7 linked regions of the Homo sapiens genome follow. The protein of the gene in region 7 purifies or fractionates together with the protein of the main gene of each other region. This does not show direct contact. Each region holds a gene or a part of one and is shown on either strand. Other genes may lie near its edges. The genes, in order: SLC39A11, FAM114A2, HSPA12A, FNDC3A, CUEDC1, PDCD4 and TMEM51.

Region 1 (3,500 bases), on a different chromosome or scaffold from region 7:
AAAAAACATTCATGGGCCAATGATTCAGAAATCTATAACTCTAGCTAGACTTTGCAAGCCAACTCCAAACTCATGTATCCAGCTGTCTAGTCAGTATCTCCATTTGAATGTCTAATGGCAATCAAACCTCACAATCAAAAAACAAATTCCTGATAGTCCCCCTAAAGCCCCTGGAGCTGCAGCCTTCCTCGTCTCAGTTGATGGCAATTCCATCCCTGCAGCTGGGCAGCCCTGAAACCTCCGGGTCCCTCCTGGCTCCTCGCTTTCTCTCATATCCCACATCCAATCCATCGGCAAATCCCATTGGCTCCACCTTCAATCGGGACCCAGGAAGGGATCCCTTCTCACCACATCCAGCACGACCACCTTGGTCTGCACCACTATCATCTTTGATCTGGATTCTGCAGTGGCCTCTACATAGGCCTCCCTGCTTCCATCCTTACCTCTCCTAAGTCCCATCTCAATTCAGTATCTAAAGAGAAACAAACTTTCAAAGCTCAAGTCAAGTCATACACACCCTCTTCAAAACTCTGCAATGGCTCATCACACACAGAGCAAAAACAAACATTCTTATGCCTCCAAGTTCCATCTAAAGGAGGGGCTGACATCCCTGCCCTCACCTTGTACTTCTCTCCCTGCTGCTCACCCTGCTGTGGCCACAGTGGACTCTTGGCTACTCCTTGTGGGGGCCAGACATGCTCCTGCCTCAGGGCCTTTGCACTGGCTGTTCCCTCTGCCTAAAACACTCACTGTTTCCCAGAGATCTGCATGACTGACTCAAATTCAAGGACATCTCAAGGAGCCCCTCCCTACCTACTCTATTTAAAATGGCAATTTCTTCCTCTAACACTCTACCGTCTCCTCTGCCCTGTTGAACTTTTTCTTTTTTTAAATCACTAACCACCTTCTAACACAATATAAAATTCATTTATTATGATGATGTTCATCGACTATCTCACCTTGCTATAATATTGGTTATAGAAGGCCAGAGATCTTGGTCTGTTTTAGTACTGATATAACCCAAGTACATGGAATACAATACTCAAATATAATAAATAAAAGACAAGACTGGGAAAGAAATGTCCCTTCAAACCTCTCCATCCAGTCAAGCCAGCTGTCCTCCAGTTTACTGAAACCAGTGACTATTACCACCATGCTTCTGGTGAAATCTAACTCAATTGAGATTCCTGGAAGGCACTCAATCCTCATTTCAATTTATTTTTTATTTTACTATTATTTTTGAGACGGAGTCTCGCTGTGTCACCCAGGATGGAGTGTGGAGATAAGAGAATCCATCTTTCAAACCAATGAATCTCTCTCTCTCTCTCTCTTTTTTTTTTTTTTTTTTTTTTTTTTTTTGAGACAGAGCCTTGCTTTGTCGCCCAGGCTGCAGTGCAGTAGCATGATCTTGGCTCACTGCAACCTCTGCCTCCTGGGTTCAAGTGATTCTCCTGCCTCAGCCTCCCAAGTAGCTGGGATTACAGGCATGTGCCACCACTCCCAGCTAATTTTTGTATTTTTAGTAGAGACGGGGTTTCGCCATGTTGGCCAGGCTGGTCTCAAACTCCTGACCTCAAGTGATCCGCCCACCTTGGCTTCCCAAAGTGCTGGGATTACAGGCATGAGCCACTGCACCTGGCCTCAATCCTTATTTGAAAAAATACTTTTGCATCACCATAGAAGTGACAAAGGCTGAACTTAGACTTGGAAACTCCAAAGACACAGAATAGGGTCTCCTGTCAGGGAAGAAGTAAGATTTTAATTTATGCTCATTTAAGATCATCAAATATTGCTGTCATTCCACACATCTTCCTCCTGTTTCTGGCTTTATTCCAAGTTGTCACTGGAGTCAACAAACATTTGAGAAAGTAAACTCTGAACCATCCTGGCCTTCCATTGGGATGAGCCAGGAAATAATTCCAGCTGAGCATAATGAATCACCCAAGTACAGTGGCAGGTGTGGTATATAAAAGGGTCCATTAGAGGAAAGTTGGATACTCATTCCATTGCTATAAAGTCTGGACCTTAGACCACATTTTTGTTCTTCAGAGAAATAGTTGCCGTAATACACCTCAGTGTAGTTACCTTATTTAACACTAAACCCACTGGGCAGATCTTTACTCTTCCTCAATTGGCTAAAGAAGGGGTCATAAATGGCAGAAAGACAGCTACTATTATGAATGAAAAACAAGTAACCTCTCTTCTCTAACTATTAGCACTTAACAGGCTACAAGTTGCTGTCAGGGCTCCTAAGTAGTCCTCTGCAGGGGACCAAGGGGTCTTTCAATGACCTCTTTAAGATACGGGGTGGGCACGAGCAGGGTCTTCCACCAAGGCTAACCCACTTTGGCCATCTTTGTGCAGTGAGGTCCATATAAGACCCCATCTTTATCTCAAGACATACTGAATACCAAGATCTAGAAAACCAACAGGGTCAGATGCTGTGGCTCATGCCCGTAATCCCAGCACTTTGAGAGGCTGAGGTGGGCTAATCACTTGAGGCCGGGAGTTTAAGACCAGCCTGGCCAACATGGTGAAACCCCGTCTCTTCGAAAAATACAAAAATTAGCTGGGCATGATGGCACACATCTTTAATCCCAGCTACTCGGGAGGCCGAGACAGGAGAATTGCTTGAACCGGGAAGTGGAGATTGAAGTGAGCTGAGACTGCACCACTGCACTCCAGCCTGGGCGACAGAGCGAGACTCTGTCTCATAAAAAAAAAAAAAAAAAAAATTGGAAAACCAACTAAAAAAAGCTTATTCATAACTCAAAGAAAAGGGTCAAGAGGGGAATGAGGGAGACACATAAACTGATGAAAATGTTGGGAAAACTGGCCTACCTATGATCGTATGATAGACATTCCTAAGATTAGGATAGAAATAACAGAGGAATGTGCTTCTTATCTAGAGAAATATCTGAGCTTAAAAAGTAATTAAACACATAGTGCTTTCGGCAGATTTAATATATACTAGAATATATAATATGTATTAGAATTTTCACACTTTAAAGACGACAAAAAAAAGTCTTCATTGTGCAAGCAAAACAATATCAAGTTATACAGAGGAACAGACTCACTTTGGCCATGCTTTTTGCTTCCACAATACTAAAGCCAGAAGACAAGGGATCAACATCTGCAGAAGCTTTGTAGAGAAAAATGTCATGACTAGAAAGCTTTGCCCAGCCAAGTTCTTGCTCCTGTATTAGAGTAACAGATTGGCACCATGAACTCTGCAAGGACTCAGAAAATGTATCACCCAAGGATGCTCCCTGGGGAAGATTATTGCTCAAACTCGAATTCCCAAACAACAAAAGGTGGGTCAGCATGTTTAAGATCTCAAGATCGAGGAAATCATGGCTGAAAAGGCAGCAGGAGTATCATCGATGCCAACAATGCGCTCGTAAGTCCCAAGCACTGTACTGAAAGCTGTATGTATATTTAGCATCTCATTTAATTCTCTAAGTAAGCCACTTGTGGCATTATCCCCATTTCTTAGATGA
Region 2 (4,263 bases), on a different chromosome or scaffold from region 7:
CTCTTCATACAGTTGCCAGAGGCCTTTATGACATGTTAACTAAGAGGCTTATTATTTTTAGAACTTTCTCATTTCTCAAATGCTTTTTAAGTCTTTTATGAAAAGAGATATCATGTGTTGTTAAGAAATAATAAAAGGGCCAGGCACAGTGGCTCACGCCTGTAATCCCAGCACTTTGGGAGGCCGAGGCAGGTGGCATCATCTGAGGTCAGAAGTTCCAGACCAGCCTGACCAACATGGAAAAACCCTGTCTCTACTAAAAATACAAAATTAGCCAGGTGTGGTGGCACACACCTGTAATCCCAGCTACTCGGGAGGCTGAGGCAGGACAATCACTTGAACCCAGGAGGCAGAGGTTGCGGTGAGCCGAGATCACGCCACTGCACTCCAGCCTGGGCAACAAGAGTGAAACTCCATCACACACACACACACACACACACACACACACAAAGAGATAATAAAACAGCTCAGTCTCTGACATTTGTGAAATATCACACTTGTTGAGTGCCCACTGTGGGTATAATTTTATTCTGGGTTTTCTAAACTGAAGAATTCAGGTTTAAAATTCAGAACACCTCTAGAAATACAGAAAAATGTCTATTTCTCAAATGGAGATATCAATAGCAACTACCTATAAAATAGCTCTCCCTCAAAAAGGTCTTTCACTAAAAACAAGTACAAAAGAAAGCATCCTTTTTCAGCAGTAGGAACCCACAAGATCTTGTTCTTTGATTACAGGATTGAAAAATTCACATTTGTACACCTAGCACTGATTTCAGATTCATAGTAATGCCATCTATAAAAATTACAATTTCACATTTCAGAGGCCTGCCAACCTGGATATCTATGCTTAAAAAAAAAAAAAAAAACTATCAAAAGCAAGTAAGGAAAATATAGCTTGTCCTTAACACATTTCTAAGGTATTATGCAAAGGAAAATAAAAATTGTTTCATAGAGGTTTCTACTTCTTTCAGATCAAATTAATAAAGTCTCTCTTAATCACAGCCTTTTAAAATCTCAATAGTAGGAAAAGACACATTTACCCTAGCAATACCTGAACATTTCACTTATTAAGGTTTTAAGTGAATTGGAAAGGCATATATTAGTAATTAGTGGTAAATCTTAGACACCAAAAATTTAAAAGGAAAATAGTACCAAAAGTGTAGCTGTTAACAAAAAACTAAAACACTGTAACTACCCCAAATAAAATAATGAAGCACATACTATCCAAAAACCATCACCATAATCCAGCAAGTTCCAAAGTGATCCCTGAATTTACCTACTCATCTGTCATGAATGTTTATGTTTCTCTATGTCTACTGGATCAAGGAATCTTAATTCTTTTTCAGTATATTTTATGTGAAGAGTAGACAATTGTTACTCAGAATTGGGCCTTTCATCATTTCACTAGTGGTCCCTAACTCCATTAAAATAAATAAATATATATGGGGGGGTGGGGAAGATGAGAAAAAAAGAGTTAGTGAGTCATATTTACCTTATGTGAGACCTAATCTAAAATTTGCCAAATTCAGGGCTGAAATCTGAATAGGTGTATAAAAAGAGTTGTTACTCTCTCCTTCATATGTATACCCCATTTCTTGAAAGAAAAACCTTAAATACATTTCTAGGTTAAGGATTTAAAGCTGCCAAACTGCCATTGTACAAGAGGCTGAACAGACAGTAGGCAGAGTGACCAGTTTCTAAACTTTGCCCTCAAGGGATACAGGTTCAGACACATCAACCAAGCTTGAGGCAACAATTCAGAACTGGTGACACCAGCCTTTGTAACCAGAAGGCAACTGTTTTTCTGAAACTTCAGAAATATTCAAGCTGGAAAGGGTGAAATTTGTCTTTAAAAAGGAATATTCAAAAACTTTCTGATCATATTAAGACAGAATATAGGCAGAGTAACATTGTAGTGCTGTTGGTATACCTTTTTAAACCAAATTTATTTCTCTTCCTTGCTTACTAACTGACTCCTGCCCCAAAGAAGATTACGTAGAAACAGTCTTTATACTAATCTATGTTATGGCTTTGCTTTGCTATTTTTTTTTTTTTTTTTTGGTCTAAGTAAGATATTAGGGCTCGTGTTTACAAAAGTAAATGAAAGGATCAAATAACATGATTAATACATTTTATTACAAAGGTTTTAGAAGATGAGGGGCAGAGCTAACAAATTACCTTAATCATTAAAAAACCACAAAGTTGGAGAATTTTTTTAAAAAGAGTGGATACCAAAATAGCTTTTAGGAAGACGACAGCTTAATAGTCTCTTAAATTGCTGAAGAGAGCAAAAGAAAGCTTAAGATCTGGAGGATAAAAGTTATATCAAAAACATGCTAAAGAATACATTAAAACAAACAAAAAGGAAAGAGGAAAAAATAAACTATGCCTTAGAAGTTAAATCCTATCATAAATGAACATCATTTCTAAAGGACTATGGCCCACTTCAACACTCAAACAAAAAAATCCTCATTGCTAAAACAGCTTCAACATTCCTTTGGAGTTTGCTGTTAAAGAATTTATCCTGCATATATGGTAGACACGAAACACATCCTGAAGAGACTCAGAATATCTGCAAACATAAAACTGCTTCTCTAAATTGCATTTACTGGCCTTGAATCCAGTAGAGTAGGGTTCAGCTATGACATGAAGTGTGTCATCCTGGGGAGGGGGAGCAATTTGAAGAAAAAGGGCACTTTGCTACAGTTAATTCACATGGCTATAATAGTCTACAAGTTTCTCCTCAATGCCAAATATCTACTAAGAATTTAAAAAAGCAGATGAAACTTTCTATTTCCAAGAATTCATGTGATAAAGGGTAATCATCACAGAGTTTACATATGCTCAGTTTTCTTAAAGCCATAGATTTTATTCCAGAAAGGAGAAAGTACATGGCATTAATAAACCACACATGCCATGAATTTTAGAACACTAAATTATTTTTCTCTGGCTTATCAACCAGTTATATCCATGGGCTGCAAATTATATCCATGACAAAATTGATAACATTTTGCAACATGTCAAAGAAAGACCAACATTTTTGCCTGAGTGTCCCACTAATCTTTATCTAGAGTTATTATTCTTGGACTTTCTACAAAAGTTTCTTTTCAAATAATTTATGAATTACAACAACTGGAAAGAATACTGTGAGAACCTGAATACTTCAATCAAACACTGAAGGCAACAATCTTCCTCTTTAAACCATCTCTCCTGCCTGAATTTTTATATACTAAAATAACCCCACTCCTTCATTTCTGCAGGAGTAGCCAGAATAAGGTGGCATTCCTTGGCCGTCACAAGTCCCAGGTCAAAACGTCTCCATTCTTCAATGTTCTAACAAAGGTTTCTGGCCCTGCAGCTCATGTCTGTGTGATTCAATCTTGTTCTCAATGAGAGAGATCTCTAGCACAGGTAAGAGTAGCTGAAAGGCGTCCTGGATGTAGGAGGCACTGTTTGATGCCTGCCAGGATTGAAAAAACAAGAAAAAGAAAATATTAGTTATTTAAAAGAGAAGATATACTGTAAGGCAACAGGGGAACAGATTAATTTTTGTAATCTAACTGAATTCATAGCCTGGCAAGTAAGAGCAGTGACTTGGCCATTTTGGTAAACTCTATTATAGGGAGAAGAATTTAGCTCTTAAGATGATATGAGCACCAAAAGAGAATGTCAGCATTTTGTACAACTTGCCCATCAGACATGGTAGCTTTTCTTTGGCAACATGGTCAGACTTGGCATTCAAAGCTTATTTATTCCTTTATTGAGTAGGGTAGATTCTGTCACAATATTGTGGTCAATTACTGAAAGAGGCTTTCAGAAGGCTATAAATCCTACACCTATAGAATTTCTAGCCCATTATGATAGCTCTTTTTCCATGGACTCAATGCGATCAGTGAGCACAATAACTGCTCACACACATAAACATCTTTCACACATATACTGCTTTCAAAGATGACAGTATAGATATATTTCTATCTTGAACAACATTTTTCAGAAGTGTTAGAGAATCATTACCCTCAGTTTGCTGGACTTCATTTATACTGAAAAGCCCTCACCTTTCAAAAGAATATCAACAGAGAGCTCATTAAGATAAAAATGTATAATTTCGAAGACAAGAGTGTTTCAAATCTGTATCCAAAAAAAAAATCCACTAAAAATAATAGGGAGCCCATATCAAGTGATATTACCTTTTTAAAATTTATCAATGGCAAGTACTATTTAAAATTCAGTGTGACATTTAATACTCAATTTCCCACACAA
Region 3 (2,937 bases), on a different chromosome or scaffold from region 7:
GATGCAGGCGAGCCACAGGCCCGCTGTGAAAAAAAACTGACTTAATACATCAAGTATAGATCTACAAATTATTTTTAGAGAGACTTGAAAAACTGAAGATTTTAATGAAACATTGCATAGCACAGATTCTCTTCCCAAATTTCACCAATGTATTCCTTTCAAAATGTGGAATTAAATGGCCAAAACTCTTAGGGAGATGAAGGTGAGTGGGAAGGAGGGGGTTAATTTAAAATCTGTCTGCTTTTCAAGGTGAGGGGCTCTTCTGGATGTCTGGTCTTGGTGATGCAAACAAGACCAATGGCAACCTCATTTTCTTACCCAGAATTCCTACTAAGGTTCACTAGAATTACTTATGAACTCAGAAATCAGGGCTGGGCATGCTGGGAATTTATGTCACAGCATATAATTTGGGATACGTCAGTAACTCTTCACTATCTGTTTCCATCATGGCAAGTTTTCACCTGCTAAGAATGTGAGGTATCAGCTCTCCTACTCACAAAAGCCCTAGTGGATTACCCAAGGCTACGGTTATTCTTCCCTGAACCTCCTTGCTGTTTAAATGATATGAGAATCTAAAACAGTGCCCAGTGTAGGCAGCCTTCTACCACCAGCTAAAAACATTCCCAGTTCCCACTGAATCACCACTTTTAATCACATGATGAGGAAAAGAAATTAACTGCAGATGGGTGGCATTTTATATTGATGGCCATCCAAAAAATTTAGAAAGACAAGTCTCAGATGAAGATCTCCTCCTGGTTCAAAGATCTCATTTTAAATCTAGAAAGACAGCAATAGGGCATCCTAAATTCTACATAACGGAGATCTGTTCAAAGCAGCGCAACCACTGCTGCAGAAATGTACTGATTCCCTTCTCCGTGGCCATTTCACCACTTTTGTACCTATGAAAACTAGCTGCTCCTCCAGGATCCTTTAATTTTCTATGCCTAAACCTTAATCTTAATTTCTGTTTTTCTGACTCCAGTGTGCCCTCAAAAGTCACTAATTATTTCTAGCCCTGATTGTTCTCATCTTCCCTGCTGAAATTCACATGGGCAATGGTGAGGGTCAAGGTTAGGGAAAGAACAGTCAAGGTTGAGGTCAGCAGATGCAGATAAGTTGAGTCCAAGGGGACAGGCAGCGGGGCGGGAGGGTTAGTAATTTAAGAAGTCGATCCCAACTTTGACACTCTTCGAAGTGGCTATATCAATGGCTGTGGCTTTGATCTCGGTGTCCCCGAACTGCATAAGGGTCTGGATCTCCCTCCGGGCGGGCACCGCAGTGCCACTGGTCCCTGTGAGATCCAGGCGGAGCGTGCCACACTTCTTCACCCCGGGATCAGTGATGAAGCTGACGTTGTCGTGCTCAGAGCTGTAGATGTTGATGACAATGACCAGCTGGGAGGGCTTGGCCGGGGTGTAGCTACGCTTGACCAGCTCACCCAGAGCCACAGACTGGTCGGCAGAGATGAACTTGTCAAAGACGTCGGTGCACCACCGAGTGCCATCCTTCACCAGCAGCTTCTCAGGCGGGTGCTTGCCCTCCACGTAGCGGTTCAGCACGCCTACCCCGTAGGTGAGCGGCGACCGGCGCACCTTGATGACCGCGGGGTCCAGGCCAAAGAGGACGGCACCCTTGAGGATGGTGAGGCCCACGTCCTGGGGGATGATGATCCGGCACTGGTCCCCAAAAGCAGCCTGCACCGCCTGCTGCAGCAGGGGCGCCTCGGCAAAGCCGCCCACCAGAAAGAGGAACTTGACGGTGGACACCTCGGGCTTCTGAAACAGGTCCCCTGGAAGGGAAGAGGCAGGGAGAATGTCCTGTCACCAAAAGCCAGCAAGGAAGGGGGAACTGGGCTGCCTGCATCTGTGGGGAACGGATAAAGCCACTTGGGCCACTGGGAGGGCAGGCTTACTCTGAGCTCCTTGAACAGAATCTTTGCAGAACTGGTCTTTTAAAGAAAGGGAGTTTGCACACCAATATGTTCCGGAATAAAAGCCAGAGCTGCTGCTAAGTAGAAATGCATTTTAACAGATACATGGTGATAATTTTAAGTAGAATTTGGTTTGCATAAATGAATACTCCTAAAGCTCTCCAAACCTGTGGTTCTGTTGGGTAAGTCAAGGCAGGTTGTTATAAATAGAATTCTCTGATTTTCATAAAAATCCCATTCCACTCCTAGAGAGTCTGATTTGGTAGGCGGGGGACAGGATACTGAAAGAGGTCCTGGTGAGTTTGCTATGTGTCCCTGGGTACTGCCACCAATGTAGCAGGAAAATGACATAGCCAGATTCCATTTGCTTGCAGAACTTCCTTTGATTCACACAACAGTTCCTTCTCCCCTAGCAGGGTGAGGATGTCTAACATGTCCCAGTAAAGCAAAGAATATGCATTTCCTAGGGCCTGCCACTCTCAGGTAACATTGCCTCAGAGCTTCCAGCTCTCTGATCTTTTTTGTTGTTTTAAAGTTTTGTTTGTTTATTTAATTCTTCCTCTTTGTCATTACCAGCTCTCTGACTTTTGAGGCCAAACGGAAAGCTTGGGTGAGACAAGCTCTCAGCAGCTTTGCAGTACGAGGAGAGGGATCCAGAGCCTATGCCCAGTAACCTCTCCCATACATGCCCAAGCCCTGCCCAGTCCTGCAGGGCCCTTGCCTGTGGCTCCCAGATCCAGGCCAACCTGACTCCACAGGCACCAGCTGGTGATGCTGGGAAAGCCCATCCCCTTTCTCAGCTCTGCCTCGCCGAGTGGCCGAGCCTGGCTGATACTTACGGAGATGCTCAATGATGCTATCGATGGTCGGCTTAAAAAGGGCGTTCATGGCATCTGGACTCATCCGCAGCATCCCCTGCGAGGACCACTTCACAAAATCCACACTGCAGGAGCATAGCATGGAGAAGAGCAGGCAGTGAGGGTCTACACGATACCCAGGCTTATCTG
Region 4 (3,500 bases), on a different chromosome or scaffold from region 7:
CAATTTTTTCTGCAAACGTTCATATGTTTTACTAGATCGTTCATCTCTAAAGTTGGACCTTCCATGTGTAGAGTGAGCATCTAGGAGGCAATAAAAACAAAATGTTAAGAAGATCACTTTCTCCAAATAAGTTTATGCCATGAAAAAAGAACAGAAAATAAATCTATCATATAAAACTTTTATAAAATATTTAAAAGAATTTTGCATAACAAAGCAACCTTTGTGTCTCCATAAACTATCAGAACCAAGCTTTGTGATTTATTCTAATTATATATATCTCTCTCTCAAGTAAATTTACAGAGAGATTTATTTCCTTCTGTTCTCAACTAATTATTAATCTCCATAGAAACAGCTTGGTGGTAACTTATGATTATTGTAGGTGAGGAATGAGACTGGAGCTGAGCAGTCCACAGTTCTTTTTCTTTTACTCTTTAGTAACTATTACTTTTCACATCTTTTTGAACCTTAAACACATAAAATAGGTAAAAAGAAAACCACTGCCTGCCTAAATTCCCTTATAACTCAAAAAAGCAATCATCACTGAAAAAAAGTTAGCCAAAAGAAATGATTTAGACTGTTTAACAATAACAATCTACATATAATGTATCTTCAGATACTATAAACTCAAGGTTGTGATTTAGAAGAATCCACTCATTCTAATAAAAGTCACATAGGAACATAATTAAGTCATTATGCTCAATAAATATTAATTCAATTGTCCCCAGAGTTTTTTAAATTTAAAATTTGTGATGAGAAAAATATTTTTTAAAAGCCTCAGTAAAAAGTTTTAATTTAGCAGTGCCTTAAGAAAATTAGTACAGTATTTTTGAAATGAGTATTATAAGGATATGTACAATAACATTAGAATGAACGTGGACCTCTACCTCACACCATATACAAAAATTAATTCAAATGAATCAATGACCCAAATGTAAGAGATTAAACTATAGAACTCTTAGAAGAAAACACGTCTCTATGACCTTGGATTTGGCAATAGTTTCTTAGACGAGACACCAAAAACACAAGCAATCAAAGAAAAAATTAGATTTCATCAGAATTAAAAACTTTTCTGCACTAAAGGATACCACAAGGAAAGTGAAAAAACAACAAGGGAGGAAATCATATATCTGATAAGGAACTTGTATCCAGAATATATATACTCTTACCTTTCAACAATAAAAAGACAAATATCCCACCCATTTAAAAAATGGGTGAAGAATTCAAATAGACATTTCTCCAAAGAAAATATATGAATGGGGCTGGGCGCAGTGGCTCACGCCTGTAATCCCAGCACTTTGGGAGGGTGAGGCAGGTGGATCACAAGGTCAGGAGTTCAAGACCGGCCTGGCCAAGATGGTGAAATCCCATCTCTACTAAAAATACAAAAAATTAGCCGGGCGTGGTGGCGCGCACCTGTAATCCCAGCTATTCGCGAGGCTGAGGCAGGAGAATCATTTGAACCTGGGAGGCAGAGGGCAGAGGTTGCAGTGAGCCGAGATCATGCCACTGCACTCCAGCCTGGGCGACAGAGCGAGACTCTGTCTCAAAAAAAAAAAAAAAAAAAAAAAAAGAGTGAAACTCCATCTCAAAAAAAAAAAAAAAAAAAAAAAGGAAAAGAAAATATACAAATGGCCAATAAGCACATGAAAAGATGATCAACATTAGTAGCATTAGGGAAAAGCAAATCAAAACCATAATGAGAGAGAAATTTATTCAGGATGCCTACAATCAAAAGACAGACGATATCAAGTTTTGGCAAAGAAATTGGAACCCTCATACATTGCTGGTAGGAATATAAAATGGTGTAGTCACTGTGGAAAAGTAATATAGAATTAACATATGACCCAGCAATTCCACTCTGAGGCACATACCCGGAAGAAATGAAAATATGTCAACACAAAAACTTTTACACAAATGGTCACAGCAGTATTGTTCATAGACAAAAAGTGAAAACAACCCAAAGGTCCATCAGCTAATGAGTGATAAAATGTAATCAACAGAATGCAATATTATTGCAGCCATAAAAAGGAACGAAGTACTATTATATGTGAGAACATGAACTTTGAAAACATGACATTAAGTGAAAAAAAACTAGACACAAAAGTCTACATACTGTATGAACATTTTAATGAAATTTTTATATGAAATACTTATATGTATATTTATATGAAGTCTAGAATAGGCAAACCCATACAGACAGAAAGTAGATCATGGGATGTGAAGGAACAGAGAGTTGGGACTGACTGTTAATATGCACAGTTTCTTTTTTGGGATGATAGAAATGTTCTGGAATTAGACAGTGGTACTTAATACAGTACATACTGAATATAGAAAACATTGAGTTGCATATGTTGCACAATAAAGTAAATATATTAAAAACCACTGAAGTGTAAAATGATGAACTGTTACCTAAATTATATCTCGACAAAAAGTTAAGAAAAATAGCAACTGCAATCAATTAGATCAATTAGTACATACTTTAAAATGCTTTATCTATTATTCAAAATAATAAAGCTACCATGGAAGAGAAAAAAGAATATATTATAGTAGAAAGAGAAGGAACTTAATCATTGAATAGATCTGAGAGGGTTAAAATTCTGAGCAATTAACTAGCAGTGTGGCCTTGCAGAAATTACTTAACATTTCTGAGCCTCGGTTTCCTCATTTGAATTTTGCAGAATTTTATTGAAAATTAAGTGAGATAATACATGTGTGAGCATAGTGCCTAGCAAGGTTCAGGCTCACTAATGGTACTGCTAACAGTGAAATGCTGGATCAGATTCCACTTTGAGAATCCATATGGATTGTGCATGGAAAGGACATCACGGAGGTATAGCCATTGGTTAGAAAACCAGTACTGTCAATAATTAGCATTTAGTGGTAGAATCTCTGGCTTATAACCTCAAGTACAACATGACTCCTCCCTTTTACCACTGGGTAGCTAATTTGTGGATTTGTGCCCTTCACTTTCCTTCATATCAATGTAGATCACATCCATGTATTCTAATGCATATCCCTACAGAATAACAAGGGGTTTTAACAATGCAAAATAGTAATAATTGTAATACTAGCTTTTTCTTATAGTTTTCTCAGATTATAAGAAAAAATTAATATTTTTAAAACTAAGTCATAATTAGCAGTAAACAAAAATAGGATGAGACTAATCTGCAGTATAAACTTTTGGTACTCAAAAGTATGTTCCTTGGAGCACAGCATGAACATCTCCTAGGGGCTTGTTAGAAATGCAGAATCTCAAGCACTACCCAGAGCTACTGAACCAATTTGCATTACTTGGGCAATAGAAATAAGTTTGACAAATACATATGATGTGTACAATATATCCACTATTTACAGGCTGTGTTGTGTAATTTCAATTTTGTATTTGAAGTTATTTCTTCTGCAAATGTACTGAGCATAAGTGACAGGCAATGCTAAGTGCAGGGAAACAATAGTGATTAAAATAGATTCAGTTCTTAGGGAGTTGATAGTCAAATAAGGGA
Region 5 (3,500 bases), on a different chromosome or scaffold from region 7:
GGTGCAGCGGTGCCGCAGGTGTCACCTCGAGAGTGCAGTCGGAGAGCGCCGCGGGTGAATGGGCCAGGCAAGGCAGGGGTACCCTAGGGATGCGACGCGGGGCTCCTGGGGACAAACCCTGCCCCAGGCCGGGAGGGAGGAGGGAGCAGGAGGGTCCAGCCCACGCCGCTGGCCACATCAGAGCACCAAGAGAACACCAACTGTTTATTACAGGAATTCCTATGAAACAGCTCCAAGAAAAAACCCACACATAGGAGGAAAAAAAATAACAAAGCAACACTCAACAGACATGGGGCTGGGGCTTCCCCCACAGTGCGCCGGGTCCTGGCGCGGGGAAGGCTCAGAGACCCGTCGAGAACTCGAGCTGGGGTACCGAGGCACTCCTCGGAGACCCCCCCCCCTCCCTCCAGGGCCCCAGGCCTGGCGCGGGGAGCAGCGGAGGGGGCGACCGCTCCTCGGCAGGGCCCCCCGAGCCAGCGTCCCGGCCCCGCGCGCGTTTCCAAACTTGGTCACGCTCGGCGGCGGCTGCGCGTCCCGGCCCTCCCCAAGCTCGGCGTTGCGAGTCCGGGCAGGGTGGGCGGGACGAGGTGCGATCGCCGGCTCGCCTTCGCTACGCCCTTGTGATCTTGGGGCCACGGAGGCCACCAGGGCCCGGCCAAGGATCGGATGCCACTCCCAACCTCCCAGAGCCGCGCCGAAGCCTCGTGCCTGCCCAGGCTTCCCGGCTCTCCGGAAGGTCTGCGCGCTCCCATGTCCAGGGCGGGGCCACGGGCTGGGCAGCCTCCCTCCCCGTGGCAGTGGTCAGTGCCGTGTAAGCGTTCCTAGAATCAGAGTTCTCCTCCTCAGATCACCCGCCCTTCTCAGGGGCACCCAGCAAGCCCTTATGCCCTAGGCGCTCACCCAGGCTGGCGGCCTTTCCGCCTTGCTCTTTAGCCCTGCACCTGCTCAAAGGGGTCACTCCAGGACCCACCGCTGCCCACCCTCGGACAGCAGGGCTTCCAGTCCAGCTGGGGAGTCAGAGCCCCTGTGAGCCCCTACTGTGGTGTGACTCCAGAACTGGCTTTTGTCTGCTGCCAAATTAAAGACCCTGCCTCCCCAGAGTCCTCCAGCTCCAGGGTGGCCACCCTCCCCATCCCTGCTGGGTGACCGGGAGCTGCTGGGAGTGAGCCCATCCCTAACAGCAGCAGCCTGATGAGGCCAGACGGGGCAGGGCAGTCGGCAGATGCTTTGCAGTAGCCCATAGCTCCTCAGAGTTCCTGGGGGACTGGCCAGGGACCTCCCACCCAGGCTGGGTGCAGGGCTCGTGTGCTGGGCCAGCAGCCCCGGGGGAAGGCTGAGATACAGGAGGACATGGAAGGGAAGGGCACAAGTGCCCGGAGGGAGCTGAGGAAGGGGGACCAGAAGGGAGCTGAGGAAAGGGGGTCAGGCAGAGTCTGTGACAGGAGAGATAGAGAACGGACGGAGGCAGAGACTCCACCTTCAGGCCAAAGAGCCTCTGGTGGGGGTCATCTTGCCCTTTTCCATATTCCAACTTTTATCTGCTTTCTGGATTTTTTTTTTTTTAAAGGGAGGTTGGTTCCTGCATTTCCACTCTTTGACCATAGGAACGCCTGGCTACAAAAGGGGCTGTAATTGGCTGCTGCCTATAGGGGCCCCAGGTCCTTCCTCCAATTGCAAGGCAGCAACTCCGAAGTTCTAAGTCCCATGGAAAGTGGCAGTGGTTGGGCTGGACTGTGGCTGGAGGATCACCGGGCCTCGGTTCTCAAGCACCATCTGTCTGGCTGCAGCTGGGCCCTTCAGCTGGGGGCCAGTGTTGCTTTCCAGCTGCCCCCACCGGGTCAGATCATCTCTGGCAAGGAAGAGCTGCTGGCATCTGGTAGGGGAAAAAAGGGATGGGAGGAATCTTTTTCAAAGGAGCCCAATGGTCTTTCCTGGTCACTGGTTCCTGGAGAGACAGTTTTGGGAGAAGTTACTAAAGACGTAAGCCCTCTCCTTTTTCCAGGGACTCGAGGTCAACCGTAGAACTCTGCCTGGGTCATCCCCCCATTCAAATTCCTAGAACCATTCCAGCTTGCCCAGCTGCAGGGACTCTGGCAGCAGGAGATGGAGTGAAGGAATGGAATCCCGGGGTGAAGCAGCTGTAGGGGAGGGCTTCAACGTGGGAGGGTACCTGGCCCATTCTAATACGTCATAGCTCAGGGGAGCTAGGCCACAAAGACCTGTAGGTGGAGAAAAGTAAACTGGGGGCAGAACTTGGTAGGACTCAGACACCAGGCTGAAGAGTTCCTAAGACTTTACTCAGAAGACTCATTCAGGCCAGGCGCAGTGGCTCACGCCTGTAATCTCAGCACTTTGGGAGGCTGAGGCGGGCCGAGGTCAGGGGTTTAAGACCAGCCTAACCAGCATGGTGAAACCCCGTCTCTACTAAAAATACAAAAATTAGCCGGGCGGGGTGGCACGTGCCTGTAATCCCAGCTACTCGGGAGGCTGAGGCAGGAGAATGGCTTGAACTTGAGAAGGGGAGGTTGCAGTGAGTGGAGATTGCACCACTGCACTCTAGCCTGGGCAACAGAGCGAGACTCCATCTCAAAAAAAAAAAAAAAAAGAAAGAAAAGAAAAAGAAAAAAAAAGATTCATTCAAAGAGCACAGGAAAAATGGAACTAAAGTGGTGTTTTGGTGGTGGGATAATCAGAGTAGGTAGGGGCAGTGAAGAGAACAGGGCTGTGACCTAGGTGATGAGCATCTATCAGGGTGGTAATGGAAGGAATAGAAAAGAGAATGAAAGGGGGCAGTCAGGAGGAGAGACTGAGTTGCTATCCAAGGCTGAAAAGAAAATCTTGGGTGCAGCTGGGGACACGAAGCAGCTCTGGAAGCCTAACTGCGATGGAGATTCAGATGTAGGAGCCAGATGCGCAGAAGTGTTGCTGGTGCTATAAAAGAGGGCGGAGGCACTGCCAGAGTGGGCAGTGAGAAGACTTCGAAGAGGGTCAAGGGCAGAGCAACAAGGAGAGCCAGTATTTAGGGAGTGGGCGGAGCAACAGGAGCCAGGAGAGAGGAAGGAGAACCTGGCTTCCTGGGGTCACAGGAGCCAAGGGAGGGCAGCTTCAGGAGAGATCAGGGGAGTGCGTGTGGAAGAGCACCATAAGAATGCAGAAGATGCTAAGGCCCTGAGCTGCTGGGTGACCTCCGAGTCAATCCGAGTGATGGGAGGGGCTGTCAGCCTGCAGTGGATGAAGGAGGATGGCAGGGAAGACTCAAGGACCCTTGGTGTTTAAGGGGAGGAGGAGGAGGATGTCAACTTGCAGAAGGAGCTGGAAGGGGACAAGCTGGAAGTCCTAGGACAGAAATAAATGATGAGGTGCAGGTACGGTGGCTCACACCTGTAATCCTAGCACTTTGGGAGGTCCAGGCGGGCAGGTCACCTGGGGTCAGATGTTCGAAACCAGCCTGGCCACATGGCAAAAATCCATCTCTACTAAAAATACAAAAACAAATTAGC
Region 6 (3,500 bases), on a different chromosome or scaffold from region 7:
AGACACAGGAGTCAGAACTATAATAAAATGTCTTAAACTGTCCCTTGGAGTATTCAATTTAAATACATCTATTTCCCATAATCGAGTTTTCTTTTCTTCAACAATTTTAACATCCTTTCAAGTATGTTTGTGTCTCTGCAGCAGTAAACATTCTCTCAGTATAATTTATATATTTGACCTTATCATTTTTAACCCATGTTTGTATTAATTGCTTTATATTTTGTTACTCATACTCACCTAACTGTTGGAGTTCCATAACCCCTATTGAGCTGACTTTAAGAAAACCAAAATTAAAATGATAAGCTGAGTACAGAATGTGATTGACTTCAAAATTGTTTCCTACTGTGTACTAATTCCCTCTTTCTGAATTCTGATATCTCAATAGTAACCACTCCAATTGTATATGACCACAGCACCAGAAAATCACATTTTCAATTACTGGTGTCCAATGAGTGGCATAATTAGAATAACATTACCACACTTTCATGTATTACATACCTAGTATGTGCTTCACAGACTTAACACACATATACAATATCTCACTAAATCCTAATTATAAATCTATACAGAGGGTATTTATATCCCAATTTTATACATGAAAAAACTGAAGGTCAGAATAACCTACTTCCTCCAAGTAAAAGAGTAAGAGTGTGACTTGGACTATTTGCTATGTGAAGAATTTACTACAAAGAGGGTCTATCTTAGGCCTATTCAAATATTGAAGAACAAGTCTTTTATTTTAAAGCAGTGCTGGACACAAGCACCAAGAACAGGGTTAGAACTAGGTCTTATTGTAGTTAGGAAACAAAAAGTACACATTTTAAAGCTGTGTTTCTATTTCTAATAGAAATAGAATGCAAGCCATATAAGAAATTTTAAATTTTCCAGTAGCCACATTAAAAAGTAAAAACAGGTGAAATTAATTTAAATATATTTTATTTAATCTAATATAACCATATCATCTCAACATGCAAGCAATATAACAAATTATTGAGATAGTTGACCTTCATCTCAACTCAGAGTAGCCACATTTCAAGTACTCAACAAACACATGTGGCTAAGCACAGTGGTGCACACGCCTGTAATCCAGCTACTGAGGAGGCTGAAGAGGGAGGATCACTTGAGCCCAGGAGTAATAACCACATGTAGCTAGTGGTCACCATACTGGACAGTGCAGAAAAGAAGCAATTACCTATATGTAAAATATATTCTAAACTGTATTACCATCCCCATCTCAATTAAGTAGGTACATATTATCCATTTATAACCCTAAAGCATACTCATACAGCTATTGTATACAGCAGCACAGAAATGATCATTAATTACATAAATTTTTTTCAATTTTTTACCATACTTTAAAAAGATCTGTAAATAAACAATGGTAAAGAAGCTTCAAATTCAACATGTTTGTTCAGATCAAAGAAAACTATGTACATTGTAAACAATAGTGAGTTAAGTCACTGAGGAAAGAAAGATGTAGTATTTAGTTACGAAATACACTTAAAATGACAGAAAATAGCTTTCAATATTAATAAAATTATAAGACAAAGAATTATCCAAAGTATACCAATATGAACTGTTCTCACTATTCAGATATTACACAATTCTAATTAACTTTTTGGGAGATTATTTTTAAAACTATAAATACATTTTAAATTATCTTGAGTTACTCACATTTGGTCATCTATTCCACAAAACTGTTCATTTTTATGATAATAACATGCTATTGAAGCACCATGGAGAATTAGGGAAAATACCCTAGGTAATTTAGAATATAAAAATTATTTGTTAGGAAAGATACCAAAGATACCAGTAAGTTTATATTACAGAAATCACTAACTAGCCCATGTGAAAATAAGCAGGCTCACTATTCTTCTCTATTCTGTACTATATAACAGAGAATAGGAATATGTGGAATGTGAAAGGATAGGCAGAAAAATAGGACATGTAATGAATTTCCATGAAAATAAAAATCACAAACTTGACTTTAAAAATAATATAGCCTGTTTTCTTACAGCATGAATAAAAGAGTATTTAAAGATAGTTTTTCTATCATGTTTTTATAAAATATGGAATGGTCTGAAGCTTCCTCACAACATAGTCAAGCTTCAAGATATTTCAGCCTAGGCAACATAGTGAAATCCTATCTCTACAAAAAATAAAAAATTAGCCTGGTGTGGTGGCACACACCTGTTGTCCCAGCTGCTGAGGAGGCTGAGATAGGGGAGGATCTCTTAAGCCCAGGAAAGTCAAAACTGCAGTGAGCCATGATCACACCACTGCACTCCAGCCTGGGTGACAGAGCAAGATCCTGTCTCAAAACGAAGAAAAAAAGAAAAAAGGATATCCTTACTTACCTGCAGGGTTTACATTCAGTATCTGCTCATTTTCTACATCCATTTTCCCTTAATTTCGCTTGCACTGATTAAACAAATTACCTAATGGAAATCTTCCTTCAGAATCTGTTTTTTTAAAAGAAAAAAAGAAAGCTTCAAGATCTTTTAAACTGATGTAATTAAGCTGAATTAAACTTACTTAAGCACACTGTAAAAACAAACGACAACAACAAAAAACACACAATTCCATTAAATAAAACAGTTCACTTTACTTTCAAAGACAACTTACCCTAATTAACATTTGGTTCCAATCTTTTTGATAAATTTATCAAAGTCAAAAAAAAAAATCCCAGATTTCAGCATGTGCCAAAGCACCCCTTTAATTGGAATTAAAAGATATGTTTGTGATACATGTTTACGTCAAGTTAAAGAAATACACACATCCAAATCTTTTAGGAATACCAAGCCTCAAAATTAATCTGATATACATACATAGGAATATAAATACTGGATAGTTCCCTACCAATGAATTATGAGAACTACTCCAAAATAAAAACAACACAGTTTTAGTTAATAAAGAATATCACATGACTGTGTTATTTTTCACATTACGGCATATCTGAAAGGCAGATATATCTGCCACTCATTACCTAGGTCTCTATAATTACTAGAATAAGACTTTGGGAGAAACTTTTAAAATCAGCTTTTTTGATAATATTATTTATATGAGAAATCCTTTTTTGATAATATTATTTATATGAGAAATCCATTTTTTAAAAATCTGATCATTTCAGAAAGGAGTAAGTACAACGACATAAGCATTTCAGTATTTTAGGCCTCAGTTTCAAAATGGCTTAAAAATTATTAATACTGGAAGGTTTGATGAAATCAGTTACCTTTTAGACAATTAACTTAGTGATACAGATCCAATAATGTTATATGAAAGAAATATCAAAATAGTTTTCAAAAAATATATTACCAGAAAGTGCAACCAAATTAAGATTTCAGAATCTCTCTAGAAGTATTTTTTAAATAGTGGTTTAGAGTACTTAAGTGTATGTTTAAGTCACATAGGTTGGATATAAGTCCTTCTGGTCATTTACAATCAGGTTGCTAGCAGTGTGCTCTTCAGAGATATAAAATGCACAAATTAGTGAAAATGCC
Region 7 (3,500 bases):
TAAAATTATTCCAAAATTAAACAAAAATTTATTTAAAGGGTCGTGGCTAGGACCATCTCTGGACAGATTAAAAACAAAATGGCTTTCTAATTTTGTTGCTATTATTACAAAAAATAACAGTCTCGAAACTAACTCCTTATACTCATTAACTGTTTTCTTAGGATAAACTTCTAGAATTGAAATTATGGTGTTTTCTAAAGCCTCTGGGCAGTCTAGAAAGAAAAGCAGAAAGAACAGGAAGGAAAAAAGCCGCCAAAGTTCCTGGCTTTGAGCAGGGGTACGAGGTAGGTGGGGGTGGAAAGTAGTTCCTTGTGACTGATGCAGTTGAAGTTGGGGTAAGGCAGCAGTAATAGGTCTGAAAAGATTAACAGAGGCTGACTCTAAGAAGTCCGGGCTTTATAGTGTTGAAAGTTAAAGAGCTTAGCTTTGGCTTGATCCTGCCAGCATAGGGAAGGGGCAAAGATTTCAGATCAGTGCATTTGACATGTTATTGATTTGTTATTTTACTTGTTGGTTTCCTACTTGACTGACTCCTCCCTGCTGCCTAATAAGGTGTAAGCTCCAAGAGGGCAGGAACTGAGCCTGTCTTAGGCACCGTTTCCCCCCAAAGCCTGGAAGAACACCTGGTCTGTAGAGAGAACGCAATGATATGGCCAAATGACTATCTGAGTCTTGTTTCCAAAATGACTCCCCCACCCACCAACTTTTTAGTGTGATAAAATGCACATAACATAAAGTTGACTATCTTAACCATTTTTCCATGAACAGTTCAGTGGCATTAAGTACATTCATACTGCTGTGCAACCATCACCATCATGCATTCACAGAACGCTTTCATTTTACAAAACTGAAACCCCTTACCCATTAAACCCTAACTCCCCATTCCTCTTCCCCCAGCCCCTGGCAACCAACATTCTACTTTCCATTTCTATGATGTCTAGATTCCTCATACAAGTAGAATCATATAGTATCTGTCTTTTTGTGACTGGCTTATTTCACTTAGCATGATGTCCTCAAGGTTCGTCCATGTTGCAGCATGGTGTCAGAATTTCCTTCCACATGGAGGCTGAATAATATTCCACTGTATGGATAGACCACATTTTGTTTATTCATTCATCCTTTGATGGATACTTGGGTTGTTTTCATATTTTAGCTATTATGAGTAATGCTCATATAAACATGGGTGTACAAATATCTCTTCAAAAACCTGTTTTCAATTCTTTTGAGCATTGATATAGTTTGGATATTGGTCCTCTCCAAATCTCATGTTGAAATTTGATCCCCAGGCTGGATGCGGTGGCCATGCCTGTAATCCCAGCAATTTGGGAGGCCGAGGCATGTGGATCACTCGAGGCCAGGAGTTCAAGACCAGCTTGGCCAACATGGTGAAACCCCATCTCTACTAAAAATACAAAAATTAGCTGGACATGGTGGCACATGCCTGTAATCCCAGCTACTTGGGAAGCTGAGGCATGAGAATCGCATGAACCCAGGAGGCAGAGTTTGCAGTGAGCCAAGATTGTGCCACTGCACTCCAGTCTGGGCAACAGAGTAAGACTGTCTCAAAAAAAGAAGAGAAATTTGATCCCCAATGTTGGAGGTGGGGCCTAGTGGGTGTTTGGTTGTTGGGAGTGGATCCCTCTTGAATGGCTTGGTGCCCAAAGATCTGGTTGTTAAAGAGTCTGCTCCCCACTCCTTCTCTCCTCTTCTCTCTCACCACATGACGCCTGCTGTCCTTCTGCCCGAGGCCCTCACTAGAAGCAGATGCTGATGCATCTGAGATGCCATGGGCTAAATAAACCTCTTTCTCTCTTTTTTTGAGATGGAGTCTTGCTCTGTCGCTAGGCTGGAGTGCAGTGGCTCCATCTCGGCTCACTGCAACCTCCGCCTCCCGGGTTCAAGCCATTCTTCTGCCTCAGCCTCCTGAGTAGCTGGGACTACAGGTGCCCGCCACCATGCCTGGCTAATTTTTGTATTTTTAGTAAAGACTGGGTTTCACCATGTTGGCCAGGATGGTCTCGATCTCGTGATCTGCCTGCCTCGGTTTCCCAAAGTGCTGGGATTACCGGCGTGAGCCACTGCGCCCGGCCAATAAATCTCTTTTCTTTATAAATTACCCAATCTCAGGTATTTCTTTACAGCAACACAAATGGACTAAGACAAGTATGCACCCAGAAGTGAAACTGCTGGATCCTATGGTTATTCGATTTTAATTTTTTGAGAAAAATGACTTTTGTTTTTTTGAGATGAGTCTCACTCTGTTGCCCAGGCTGGAGTTCAGTGGCACGATCTCGGCTCACTGCAACCTCTGCTTTCCAGGTTCAAGCGATTCCTGTGGTCAGCCTCCTGAGTAGCTGGGATTACAGGCACCTGCCACCATACCGGGTAATTTTTCTATTTTTAGTAGAGATGGGGTTTCACCATGTTGGCCAGGCTAGTCGTGAACTCCTGACCTCAAGCAATCCACCTGCTTTGGCCTCCCAAAGTGCTGGGATTACAGGTATGAGCCACCATGCCCAGCCCCCAAAATGACTTTTAAGAAGAAACTATATAAAATACTTTTTCCACCTCTGCCTTCAGCATCTGCCCTGAGTGCAGCGTTTCTACACTCAGTATTGGCCTGTGTTAACGAAGCTCTTTTACACCTTGAGGCCTTTGCACAGGCAGTTGCCTCCACCAGGAAGACCTTTGGCGGTGGCGGCTGCACCTGCCCTCCCCGCTCCCCATTTCAGCTCAGACTGCACTCTTTCTGAAAATCCTTCCTGACTCTCCAAGTTTGGGTTAAGCCTCCTCCTTCACGGGCTGTGCTTCCTCATCTTTATTCACATGTTGTTAAGGTACAATCCCTGCTGCCTCCCGTGGGGGATCAGCTCCATCGGGGTGGGGGGCGGGGGCTGACTCTCCCTCGTTCCTGGGCTCAGCGCCTGGCATACCATATGTATCAGGAGATTTGTTTAAAGTGATGGCGCCGGTGTTTAGCTACAGGCAATTTCCCCCAAAAGAAGAGAATTTGCATCTGTCACTGTTTGAAAACAATAATTACCCACAGGCAGTTCCAGTACCTAACTGCTTCTCTCCAAATTGCAGGCAGTTTTAAGGAAGCTGTATGTGAGGCCTCTTATGGTAACTTAAGAAAGTTTGAGTGTTTGTTTTGTTTTTTAAAATCATGTTCTTGCTGGGTGTGGTGGCTCACGCCTGTAATCCTAGCACTTTGAGAGGCTGAGGCAGGTGGATCACTTGAGGTCAGGAGTTCAAGACCAGCTTGGCCAACATGGTGAAACCCTATCTCTATTAAAAATACAAAAATTGGCCGGGCGTGGTGGCATGCACCTGTAATCCCAGCTACTCAGGAGGCTGAGGCAAGAGAATTGCTTGAATCCAGGAGGCAGAGGTTGCAGTGAGCCAAGATTGCACCACTGCACTCCAGCCTGGGCAACAGAGTGACACTCTGTCTCAAAAGAAATAAATAAAATAAAATAAAGTCATTTTCCCTCACCAAA

Evidence for each region.
Region 1: the proteins of TMEM51 (region 7) and SLC39A11 purify together in Homo sapiens (affinity purification with mass spectrometry; 3 studies listed by BioGRID and IntAct, with this or other methods). This does not show direct contact.
Region 2: the proteins of TMEM51 (region 7) and FAM114A2 purify together in Homo sapiens (affinity purification with mass spectrometry; 3 studies listed by BioGRID and IntAct, with this or other methods). This does not show direct contact.
Region 3: the proteins of TMEM51 (region 7) and HSPA12A purify together in Homo sapiens (affinity purification with mass spectrometry; 3 studies listed by BioGRID and IntAct, with this or other methods). This does not show direct contact.
Region 4: the proteins of TMEM51 (region 7) and FNDC3A purify together in Homo sapiens (affinity purification with mass spectrometry; 3 studies listed by BioGRID and IntAct, with this or other methods). This does not show direct contact.
Region 5: the proteins of TMEM51 (region 7) and CUEDC1 purify together in Homo sapiens (affinity purification with mass spectrometry; 3 studies listed by BioGRID and IntAct, with this or other methods). This does not show direct contact.
Region 6: the proteins of TMEM51 (region 7) and PDCD4 purify together in Homo sapiens (affinity purification with mass spectrometry; 3 studies listed by BioGRID and IntAct, with this or other methods). This does not show direct contact.

The regions. Positions count from the first base shown.
Region 1 is NC_000017.11:72,844,689-72,848,188, forward strand, and holds part of SLC39A11 (zinc transporter ZIP11), read right to left. Parts: intron 1-3,500. UniProt on the Homo sapiens protein: Zinc importer that regulates cytosolic zinc concentrations either via zinc influx from the extracellular compartment or efflux from intracellular organelles such as Golgi apparatus. May transport copper ions as well.
Region 2 is NC_000005.10:153,989,648-153,993,910, forward strand, and holds the end of FAM114A2 (protein FAM114A2), read right to left. Parts: intron 3,464-4,263; coding exon 3,329-3,463; 3' UTR 501-3,328; downstream 1-500.
Region 3 is NC_000010.11:116,673,630-116,676,566, forward strand, and holds part of HSPA12A (heat shock 70 kDa protein 12A), read right to left. Parts: intron 2,874-2,937; coding exon 2,770-2,873; intron 1,790-2,769; coding exon 1,152-1,789; 3' UTR 1-1,151. UniProt on the Homo sapiens protein: Adapter protein for SORL1, but not SORT1. Delays SORL1 internalization and affects SORL1 subcellular localization.
Region 4 is NC_000013.11:49,132,912-49,136,411, reverse strand, and holds part of FNDC3A (fibronectin type-III domain-containing protein 3A), read right to left. Parts: intron 81-3,500; coding exon 1-80. UniProt on the Homo sapiens protein: Mediates spermatid-Sertoli adhesion during spermatogenesis.
Region 5 is NC_000017.11:57,861,413-57,864,912, forward strand, and holds part of CUEDC1 (CUE domain-containing protein 1), read right to left. Parts: intron 1,874-3,500; 3' UTR 1-1,873.
Region 6 is NC_000010.11:110,874,928-110,878,427, reverse strand, and holds part of PDCD4 (programmed cell death protein 4), read right to left. Parts: intron 2,463-3,500; 5' UTR 2,401-2,462; coding exon 2,358-2,400; intron 1,759-2,357; exon of another isoform or gene 1,685-1,758; coding exon of another isoform or gene 1,675-1,684; intron 1-1,674. UniProt on the Homo sapiens protein: Inhibits translation initiation and cap-dependent translation. May excert its function by hindering the interaction between EIF4A1 and EIF4G. Inhibits the helicase activity of EIF4A. Modulates the activation of JUN kinase.
Region 7 is NC_000001.11:15,160,247-15,163,746, reverse strand, and holds part of TMEM51 (transmembrane protein 51), read right to left. Parts: intron 1-3,500.